3 linked regions of the Homo sapiens genome follow. The protein of the gene in region 2 interacts with the protein of the main gene of each other region in a pairwise test. Each region holds a gene or a part of one and is shown on either strand. Other genes may lie near its edges.

The links.
Region 1: the proteins of CLDN2 (region 2) and TEX264 interact in binary tests that used the Homo sapiens proteins (3 or more experiments, as listed by UniProt).
Region 3: the proteins of CLDN2 (region 2) and CSGALNACT2 interact in binary tests that used the Homo sapiens proteins (3 or more experiments, as listed by UniProt).

What each region holds. Positions count from the first base shown.
Region 1 is NC_000003.12:51,674,172-51,677,922, forward strand, and holds part of TEX264 (testis-expressed protein 264), read left to right. Parts: intron 1-99; coding exon of another isoform or gene 100-133; coding exon 134-391; intron 392-3,751. UniProt on the Homo sapiens protein: Major reticulophagy (also called ER-phagy) receptor that acts independently of other candidate reticulophagy receptors to remodel subdomains of the endoplasmic reticulum into autophagosomes upon nutrient stress, which then fuse with lysosomes for endoplasmic reticulum turnover.
Region 2 is NC_000023.11:106,923,378-106,927,128, reverse strand, and holds part of CLDN2 (claudin-2), read right to left. Parts: intron 1-3,751. UniProt on the Homo sapiens protein: Forms paracellular channels: polymerizes in tight junction strands with cation- and water-selective channels through the strands, conveying epithelial permeability in a process known as paracellular tight junction permeability.
Region 3 is NC_000010.11:43,148,423-43,152,173, forward strand, and holds part of CSGALNACT2 (chondroitin sulfate N-acetylgalactosaminyltransferase 2), read left to right. Parts: intron 1-1,364; exon of another isoform or gene 1,365-1,721; intron 1,722-3,751. UniProt on the Homo sapiens protein: Transfers 1,4-N-acetylgalactosamine (GalNAc) from UDP-GalNAc to the non-reducing end of glucuronic acid (GlcUA). Required for addition of the first GalNAc to the core tetrasaccharide linker and for elongation of chondroitin chains.

The sequences.
Region 1 (3,751 bases), on a different chromosome or scaffold from region 2:
GGCAGGTCTGAGGAGGTTGGGCCAGAACTGGTTGGCGGGCAAGTGGGCACATTGTCAGAGTAGGCTACCAGCCTCCTCTCCCTTCTTTCTCCTTTGCAGCTGCCTTGAGGTGCAGTGTTGGGGATCCAGAGCCATGTCGGACCTGCTACTACTGGGCCTGATTGGGGGCCTGACTCTCTTACTGCTGCTGACGCTGCTGGCCTTTGCCGGGTACTCAGGGCTACTGGCTGGGGTGGAAGTGAGTGCTGGGTCACCCCCCATCCGCAACGTCACTGTGGCCTACAAGTTCCACATGGGGCTCTATGGTGAGACTGGGCGGCTTTTCACTGAGAGCTGCAGCATCTCTCCCAAGCTCCGCTCCATCGCTGTCTACTATGACAACCCCCACATGGTAAGGAGTCTCCATGGGGTTCTGCCCCATGGATGGGCCTGGTGGGCCAGGGCTTCTTTGGGGAGGGTAGTTTTGGTTGCTGAGGAAAGGGTGGGAGAATCTTCAAGCTGGCCCTGCAGACCCCTCCTCTATGAGCTTGAAGCACCTTCCAGATTTAGCCTGGACTTCTGCTCCCGGCATCCATTTGTGGGCTTTCTATTTGCCCAGGTCTGGTTCCCCTTGCCCATGGCTACTTGTGGATTTCCAAATGCAGTGGACTATACCACCATGAATCCCTGGCTTCTGCCAGGACTTTGGTCCCCTGCCTCCTCTTCTTGTCATCCCTCCTTCCATCTCCATTTGGGGCCAGTGCTCTAAGGCCAGGCCATTCAGATTCTGCCCACTCTTTGGGGTTACATCTTGCTGTTTCTGTGCTTTCCATCCCTCAGCTCTTCTGCCATAGTTGTAGGCCCTTGAGGGCTGAGAGGGCAGTCCCTGGGGATGGGGCTTGGAATCTTACCTCTTCAGCCATTCTGATGCCCCTCAACCTGGTGATATGGCATTTCCTTAGACCTCAAGCTGGTGCTGGGAGATGGCCAAGGGGGCTAGTGGAGCCAGATGAGTTACTTAGAATGTTCAGAATGCTGAAGTCAAAAACTAATCCAGCATCACTAGCACCCTGTGAGCGTCTGGCTGTTCTTACAACCTATGGTGAGTCAGAGCTTGCTAATGTAACCTACTGCTATGCTATGGGGTGGTGCTGCCCACAGCTGGATGGGCTGGCAGCTCTGTCAAGGGTTCTTCAGCCTCTACTACTAAGCCATGCCAAACCAAGCATTTGGAATCCCCAGCTCTGATTTCCTTGCCTGGAGAGCTCAAGTGCACAAGTCCTGCAGTCTACCCAATGTGTGCTGACCGGCTTACTGGGGCACTAGTTGAAACAGGATGTACTGGTTCCCTCTCTGTGCCAGGTTCTACTCTACACCTACACTCTGGAGATGAATCAGACCTGGCTCTGCCCTCAGGAAGCTCTGTGTGGCTGACATGTCAGCCCCACATAAGTGATTCTCCAACAAGACACTGTGCTTGATGTCCACAGAACTTTGAGCTGTAGGTTCAGGGAGGCTGCCATGAGTCTGCTGGGGAGGCTCAGAGAAGGGGTAGATTTCAGCTGGGCCTTCTCATGTAAGTAGAATTTTGCTTTGTTGGGAAGGGGTACTTGGCTAAGAAAACTGTGACAGCAAGAGCCTGAAGACATGGGATGACCAGAGAATTGTGGTTAGTAGACATGTCTTGGGTGGAGAAAGGTGGAAGGGTTTGCCCAGCCAGGTGGTGGGGAAGTACAGCAGGTTGAGAAGAAGGATGTGGCACAATTTGCCACCTTTGTTTTAGGAAGTTAGCTGAAGGGCAGGTGGAGGAGGGAAGGAGATGAGGCAGGAGGCCGTAGAAGAGATTGGGCTGGGTCCAGGTGAGAGGCGACATGGGTTGGTTGAGGTTTTGCAGTCACATGGCCAGGAGATGGCACTAACTGAAGTTGGGAGCACTGGAGCCTGAGTGGGATGGGACAGACAGTGGGCTATGGGGAGCTCCTAGAGCAGATGTGTGACCCTCACCCCTTCAAGGGCTCCGTTGTGTAAGGCCCTGCCCCCCCTTCCACACCTGGCCCAGTCAGAGCCTTCTGCAAGAAGAGTCCTTGCAGCTGGCTGTCTTCTCATTGGCGTGTCTGCCTGTTCTGGAATCAACAGGTTGCCTCTTGGGTTGGAGGTGCTAATTCCTGGATGGGAAAGGGCTAAGGCAGCAGGGTACCCTGGGGTCAGTGCTGGAGGCTGGTCTAGGGAAGAGTGAGATGGAAGAAGCCTGGCATGGGATATTCTGGCCTGGCCACTGCCTCCTGCAGCTTTCCCAGAGATGTGGTGGACCCCATGGGGTGGGCCCTGGGTCTCCAGGGTTGGTTGGTCATAGTCTGACTAGGGTGCTTGTCTGGGGGACTGTGGCCTGAGAGCACAGCCTTGAGGCTAGCAGTCCCGAGTTCTGATTCTGTCCCATCACTGTCCTGCTGAGTGATCTTAGGCATATCCCATAATGTTTCTGAGCCTCTATTTCCTTGTCTGCAGAGTAATGATAAAATACCTGCTTCATAGTAGACTGAGAAGAGTTAAGTGATATAGGTGAGGCATTTACCCCAGCACTTAGCCCTCAACAGATGCTTAACAACAACAAAGATGGGTGGGAAAACCACTTGTGCTAACATATGCTGAGAGGTCAGACTGAGCAAACCTAGACCCTTGGCCTGGCTGTGGTCATTTGGGTGGCACAGAGGATGATGAACAAGTCAAGGTGGCCCTTCTGACCCTGCCCATCCCAGTCCTGGGTCAGTCCAGAAGACACCTGTGTCCCCATTTAGAGCTAGGTCACACTTGGCACCTGGGATGGCTCAGGGACACTTGGGTCCCCATTTACTCTTGGAGCTGGTCAGTGCATTCTCTGCCTGACAGAGATTGTAACAGGTTCAGGGAACCATGGACCCCCAGGCTTCAGGTGCTCGTGGCTATCACAGACTGGTCCGGAAGGACCTGAGGCCTCCTGGTCCACACTCCATATTATGGAGGGAGAAACAGATTCAGATAGTAGGAGAAAGGCACTGATCTCATATGTTTTTGTTTTCATTTAACAAATATCTGAGCACCTGCTCTGTACCAGGCTCTGTGTTGGGCACTAGGGTACCATGGGGACCAGGACCTGCCAGTGTGTGGGTGTTAGGAGCCTAGAGGAAAGGCCCCATCCTGGTCCTGGAGTGGGCTGAGAACCAAAGGTTTTTGTCCCCTAGGCTGCCTCCACCAGCAGTGTGCAGCGTGGCATGCTCTGGTTCTCAGAGAAAGAGAATAGAGGCTGACCTGTTCAGTGTCCCACCCCCACTGTGTCCTTCCCTAGCCCAGAGTGACAGGAGCCAGAACCTGCTTCTCTGTGAGTGTGGGGAGGCAGTGAGGCTGTGTCAGGCTCTGTGAGTGGGGTGGTGAGTAACCAGGTGAGAGGTGCCACCTGGCTTTAGATGCTGCCCACCCCATGAGGTGTGACGGACAGCTCCCTAGCCATGCCTCGTCCTGTCCTCAGCTGGGCAGGGAGTAGGCTGGTCCCACCTAGGCTGGGTGTGGACCCAGGAAGTAGCACAAGAAAGGGTACCACTAAGATTGGACAGTGGCAGTTGGTGTGGACCTGTTCATAGTAGCTGCTGCTGGAGCTGTTAGCCTTGTGCCCTGGAGTCCTGTATGGGAAGAGGCTGCAGGTCTGGGTGAGTGGTTCTTGTGAGGCAGGAGGAAGGATTCCATTCTCCATCCCTGAAACCCTTGGCATGGTTGGGAATGGGAAGGTGGGGAAGAAGTC
Region 2 (3,751 bases):
TCTCTACAAGACCCTCTGATCCACTAATTTTTCTTTCTTTCTTTTTGAGACAGGTTCTCACTTTGGCACCCAGGCTGGAGTGCAGTGGCATGATCTCGGCTCATTGCAGCCTCGACCTCCTGGGCTCAAGTGATCCTCCTGCCTCAGCCCCACAAGTAGCTGGGACTACAGGAGCGCATCACCACACCTGGCTAGTTTGTGTGTGTGTGTGTGTGTGTGTGTGTGTGTGTGTGTGTGATCCTCCTGCCTCAGCCCCACAAGTAGCTGGGACTACAGGAGCGCATCACCACACCTGGCTAGTTGTGTGTGTGTGTGTGTGTGTGTGTGTGTGTGTGTGTGTGATCCTCCTGCCTCAGCCCCACAAGTAGCTGGGACTACAGGAGCGCATCACCACACCTGGCTAGTTGTGTGTGTGTGTGTGTATTTTTTGTAGAGACCAGGTTTTGCCATGTTGCCCACACTGGTCTTGAACTCCTAAGCTCAAGTGATCCACCTGCCTCAGCCTCCCAAAGTGCTAGGATTACAGGCATGAGCCACCGTGCCCGAACTAACCCACTAATTTTTCAACCCACCACAATCTGGCTATTCCATTTTAGCCTTCTTCAAGATTTCTCTTTCCCTACTCATCTCTTAAATGTGAGTATTCCTCAGAAGTCCATCCTTTTCTCAATTAACACTCTGTCCCTGAGCAAACTCATCTTGCCCCCATAACTTAATCTACTACCCATCCACTGACCCTCCCAAATCTGAATTTCCAGGATAGACCCTTCTGAGCTTCAAGACTGGCAGAGCAATCACCTAGTCAGAATCTCCACAGGGAAATCTCATAGACATCTCGAATTTGACATGTCCAAAAGTGAACTCATCACATCCCCCATGCAGCTTTCCCCAAACAGTTCTTCCCTGTGTTCCCTGTGTTCACTGAATGATACCTCTATCCATCCACTTGTGCCAGACCAAAATCCGGAAAGTGATCTTTAGCACCTTTCTTCTACTTACCTCCTGCATCCTATAGTCCCTATGTCCCACCAGTTCTACCTTATGAATATACCTCAAATCCATGGTTCCTTTCTCTCCATTTCCACTGCTACTTCCCTAGTTCAGTTTCACCATTCTTTTTTTGAGACCGAATTTTGCTTTTGTTGCCCAGCCTGGAGTGGGGTGGCGTGATCTTAGCTCACTGCAATCTCCACCTCCCAGGTTCAAGTGATTCTTGTGCCTCAGCTTCCTGAGTAGCTGGGACTACAGGTGCACGCCACCACGCCCAGCTAATTTTGTATTTTTAGTAGAGACAGGGTTTTGCCATGCTGGCCAGGCTGATCTCCAACTCCTGACTGCAAGTGATCCGCCCACCTCAGCCTCCCAAAATGCTGGGATTACAGGTGTGAGCCACCATGCACGACCTCATCATTCTCTTTCACCTGGATTATAGCAACAGCTTTCTAACTTGTCTTTCTCCCAATTCATTCTCCACATCATTGCCAAGGTGATCTTTCAACACATTAATCTGATCGAGTCACTACTCTACATAAAGCATTCCAGTGGCTCCCCATTTGCTAAAAAGTAAAGTCCAAACTTGCTTGGTTTACCCCATGACCTCTCAAGCTTCATCTCTTGCCATTTCCCTCCTCATAGTCTGTACTATTGTGGAATTAAATTACTTCCAGTTCTTCAATCATGCCATGTGGTCTTTTGCTCCCAAATAGAAATAGAACAGAATATTCTATGCAGAGTGTTATGTATTCTTCTTCCTCTGTTTAGTGCCTTCTCATCTTTTAGGATTCAGCACAGATGTCTCTTACTCTAGCCTGGGTCAAGTACCCCTCCTGTCTATTCTTACAGTATCTTGTGTTTACTTCCATCATAGTAATAATAATAATAGCAACACTTATGTAGTGTTTCTTATGGGACCATTATAAGCACTTTTTACATGCTAACTTATTTAGTCGTCACAGGTTTTTTTGTGGTAGGCACTAATAATCCCTATTGTATAGATGAAGAAACTGAGGCAGAGATAGTACATTTTGCATTATGTTGCAATTTCCTGTTTAAACCCTCATTCTTCCCTATTAGCCTGTGAGCTACTTGAGGGCAAGACTATATCTTATGTATCTCTGTATCTCATGTGCCTTACATACTGCTTTATCCAGAGCAGCAATTCAAAAACTGTCTTCTTAATAAATGAATGAAGTTGGCAAAGAGGTTTGAGGGGCTCCATATGACTAAAATATAGGGACTTTCCAAATGAGTCAATAACGCTTCAGTGTAAGGGTCATTGAAGTGCTGCCCAACGTTGGGAAAGAAGAAAGAGAGAGATGGGGGATCAGAGGAAGAAAGAGGTAAGGGGGGAGAGAGAGACAGCAGAGCTTCACTATGTATATATATAATGTATATTATATATATTTATAATATATATGCATTTGTGGAATATTTTGTCTCCTCAACCAAATTCTAAACAATTTAAGGGTGAAAAAATATATATTAAATGTCTATCATGCTTCCACAGCATTGGGCACATGATTGATAGTCAATACGATTCATCAGCATTGGAAACACCAATGCCAGTGTTGATGCAAAGCAGTGCAGAGCAGGAGCCGATAAACATTTGATGAAGGGAGAGAAACATAGTTTGAATCTCACCTCTGTCACTCATTAGCAAGTCTTTCTTGACATTGGTTTCTTATTGCTAACCTTGGCACAATTGTACCTGTCCTGATCATGACTATGTATCTCATTGAGGCCTTCAGTGCTGCTTGGAAATCCTTCTACTTCTCCCTGGTAAGCACCCTTCTGATGACTGCTTCAAACATTTACTACTACTTTTTGAGCTCCCTACTCTACCTCCTCCCTGTGCAGCTATTACTCCTATCTTGATCATTCTCTTTGCAGCCAAGATCCTTAAACAAGCCATTCATTATTGATGTCTCCACTTCTTCACCCTCCCACTCACTGCTCAGCCCTCTGCAGTCTGGCTTCCACCATTAGCCCTCCACTGAAAATATTCTCACCAAAGTTATCAACTCTTTTCTTGATCCAAAATTCAATGATCATATCTCTGTCATCTCACCTTGTCTCTCTCCTTCATAAAACTATCTTCTCCCTTGTTTTCTGTAACACCACTCCATTTTAACTACTTCTCAAAATGATTCTTCTAGTTTTCCCTTATAAGTTCCTCTTCTTCTGCTCACTCTTTAAGTCTAACTATCCATCTCTGCCCCTCTAGCCTCCTCAGGGTTTCATCTCGACTTCTAGATGGCTCTTCTTATCCTTCACATTCTTCATGGGTTATCTCATCCTCTCTGTCTCCATGCCAGTGACTCCTGAATTCATATCTCTGCCACAGATTTCTCTCCTGAACTCAAGATTTGTGTAGTTAACTATTACTTGGAATGGCCCTACCTGAATGTTTTAATGGCCTCAAATTCAACATTTGCAAAGCTGGAATCATCTGCCCTTTTTGCTCCCCATGCCCAAACTGCTCCTCATGCAGTGTTCCTTACCTCAGTGGGGCTGTCACTGAGTTAATAACCCAAGCCAGTCATCCTTGCTTTTTCACCTCTTGTTGACATATAATTAATTATAATGTACCATCAGGTCTGCCTTCAAAAATAGACTGTGAATCCATCTACTTCTTTCTGTCGCCACTGCCCTAAACCATAGTTCAGACTATGCAACCATCGTTTCTTGTCTATTTGAAAATCTCATAGACACCTCAAATTGATCTCTCTAATTCCACTTCTGCCCCAATCCT
Region 3 (3,751 bases), on a different chromosome or scaffold from region 2:
AAGAAGTCCACTGGGATTCTTGAAGAGGATTGTGTTTAATCTGTACATTAATTGGGGAATATTACCATTTTAGCAATATTAAGCCTTCCAATCATGAGTGTGGTGTCTTTCTGTTTATTTAAATCTTAACTTTCTTCCAACAATGTTTTGTAGTTTCTATGAATACAAGTCTTGCAGTTCTTTTGTTAACATTATTCCTATTTTATTCTTTTTGATGCCATATTGTATACAGGATTGTTTTTTTAATTTCATTTTCAGATTGCTTGTTGCTAATGTAGAGAAATACAATTGATTTTTGTATATCGATATTGTATCCTACAACTGGCTGAACTCATTTATTAGTTATAATAGATTTTTAGTGAATTCCTTAGGATTTTCTGCATACAGATCATATCATCTGCAAATAAGGATAGTTTTACTTCTTCCTTTTCAATCTGGATGCCTTTTATTTCATTTTCTTGCCTAATTGCCTTGGCTACAACCTCCTCTAGTACAATATAAATAGAAGTGACAAGAACAGACATCCTTGTCTTATTCCTGATCTTGGGGGAAGGCATACAGTCTTTCATCATTAAATACAATGTTAGCTATGGGTTTTTTGTAGGTCCCTTTTCTTAGATTAGGAAGGTGTCTTCTAGTTTATTGAATGGTGTTTGGTTTGGTTTGGTTTGGTTTTTTGAGATGGAGTCTCGCTTTGTCGCCCAGGCTGCAGTGCAGTGGCGTGATCTCGGCTCACTGCAACCTCCGCCTCCCAGGTCCATGTGATTCTCCTAACTCAGCCTCCTGAGTAGCTGGGACTGCAGGTGCATGCCACCACCACACCCGGCTAATTTTTTGTATTTTTAGTAGAGGCGGGGTTTCATTGTGCTAGCCAGGATGGTCTCTATCTCCTGACCTCGTGGGATCTGCCCACCTCGGCCTTCCAAAGTGCTGGAATTACAGGTGTGAGCCACCGCACCCAGCCCCTATTGAATGGTTTTTATTAGGAAATGGTGTTGGATTTTGTCAAATGCTTTTTCCATGTCTGTTGAGATGATCAAGTGAATTTTGTCTTCTATTGATATGGTATATTGCATTAATTGATTTTCAGATGTTAAACCAACCTTGCAGTCCTGGGATAAATCTTATTTGGCCATGATGTATGATTCCTCTTATATATTGCTGGGTTCGTTTTGCTAGTATTTTGTTGAGGATTTTTGTATTTATATTCATATAGGATATTGGCCTATGGTTTTCTTTTAATGTCTGGATTTGGTAGCAGGATGATACTGACCTTATAGAATGCTTCCTCTTCTATTTTTTGGAAGAGTCTGTGAAGATAATTCTTATTTAATAATAATAATTCTTATTTAAATGTTTGCTAGGCTGGGTGTGGTGGCTCACGCCTGTGATCCCAGCACTTTTCGAGGCTGAGGCGGGTGGATCACCTGAGGTCGAGAGTTCAAGACCAGCCTGACCAACATGGAGAAACCCCATCTCTACTAAAAATACAGAATTAGCCAGGCGTGGTGGTGCATGCCTGTAATCCTAGCTACTCGGCAGGCTGAGGCAGGAGAATCCCTTGAACGTGGGAGGCGGAGGTTGCGGTGAGCTGAGATCGCGCCATTGCACTCCAGCCTGGGCAACAAGAGCGAAACTCTGTCTCAAAAAAAATAATAGTAATAATAAATAAATGTTTGGTACATTCCACCAGTGAAGCCTCTTGGCCTGGACTTTTCATTGTGAGTAGTTTTTTTATTATTATTAATTCAATCTTTTGTCATATAAGTCTATTCATATCTGGTATTTCTTCTTAAATCAGTTTTGTTAGTTTCTATCTTTCTAGGATTTTGTCCATTTTATTCAGTTATCTTTTGAAGAGATTTAGATAATAATGAGCAAAAATCTTAGTTACCAATGTCGTTAACATTAATGATGTTTTTCATTGCTTTGTATAAATCCATATTCCTTTCTGGTATTATGTTCCTCTGCCTAAAAGACTTACAGTACAGGTATGATGGTGATGAATTCCTTTAGCTTTTTATGTAGAGAAAGTATTTTGCCTTTTTCAAAGATAATTTCTCTGGGTATAGAATTGTAGGCTGGCATATTTTTCTTTTTAGTTCTTTAAAGATCATTGTTCCACTGTCTAATTACTTTCAGTTTTCAAAGAGTAATCTGTCATTATTATCTTTTGTTCCTTGTATGTGATGTGCATTTTTCATGTGGCCAGTTTAAAGATTTTCTCTTTACATTGGATTTGAGCAATTTGATTATCATGTACCTTGCTATAATTTTCTTTATGGCTATTTGGGATTGGTTGAGCTTCTTATGTGTGTTTATAGTTTCCATCAAATTTGGGAAATTTTCAGCCTTATTTGTTTAAGTATTTCTCCTGACTCCTTCCCCCTTCTTTGGGGACTCCAGTTACATGTATATTAGGCTGTTTGAAGTTGTCACAGAGCTTATCAATGCTTTGTTTATATTTTTGATTCTTTTTTCTTTCTGTATGTTGCATAGTTTCTTTTGCTACATCTCTAGTTTACTAATATTTTCTTCTAAAATATCTAATCTGCCATTAATCCCATTCAGTGTATTTTTCATCTCAGACACTGAAATTTTCATCTCCTGAAGTTTAACTTGGATCTCTTTTATGTCATTCATACCTCTACTTAAATTTTTGAACATAAACATCATTTTAAAAATACAGTTATGATAGCTGTTTTGGTGTCCTTTTTCTGCAGATTCCCACATCTGTCAGTTCTAATCATTGGTCAGTTTTAATTGTTGATTTTTTTCATTATGGATCATATTTTTTTATACCTGGTAATTTTTGTTGAGATGCCAGATATTGTGAATTTTATTTTGTTGAGTACTGGATATTTCTGTATTCTTATAAATATTCTTAAGGCTTGTTGTGCTATTACTTGGAAATAATGTGATCCTTTCAAGTCTTGCTTTTAAGATGTATTGGCAGGATTAGTGCCATGTTTAGTCTAGAGCTAATTATTTCCCACTACTGAGACAAGATTTTTTTGAGTGCTCTACCGAGTGCCCTGGGAATTCTGAGGTTTTCCAGTCTGTCTGTTGGGAACATGCACTAATCCTGGCCCTGTATGAATGCTGGGTTCTGTGTCCTCTAATTTTGTGTGTGGTCCTTTCCTTAGCCCGTTAGTTGCCTCATAAGCCTTTACTTATCAGTGCTCTGCCAAATACCCATGGGATATCCTATTCAGATTTCTGGAGTTCTCTCTGTGTGCAGCTGTATCCACTCTGGTACTATATGCTTTAATCCTAGATACCTTGGTCTCTTCAGACTATGAGCTGCATCCCATGAACTCAGGGAATCTGCTGGGCTCTGCTTAGGTTCCCCTCCTTGTGTGGCTCAGAAACTAAGGCAGTAAGCTGGCAACCACTTGTTTCTTGTTTCTCTGGGGATCACTGTCCTTTGTTACCTGATGTTAAATATCTTGAAAATCATTGTTTCATATTTTGGGTTTGTTGGCAGGAAAAGTTGTTTGTTTGTTTTTGGTTGTTTCAAGACAACCAAAGAGAGCAAATCTGAGAGTAAATCTGGCCCGTTACTTCATCTTGGTCGTAAAAGGAAGTCAGTTTTTTAAGCAGTTTTAGAGAGTTAGAATTGATGGCTTGTAAGGTTTCTTTCAATCCTGAGATCTTTGGCTTCATATTACATACCTTTAACAGCTTATTTTCCCATCTTCACATTATCCTTTTCTCTCCTCAAAACACTTAACTATCTGCATTTGTGCTT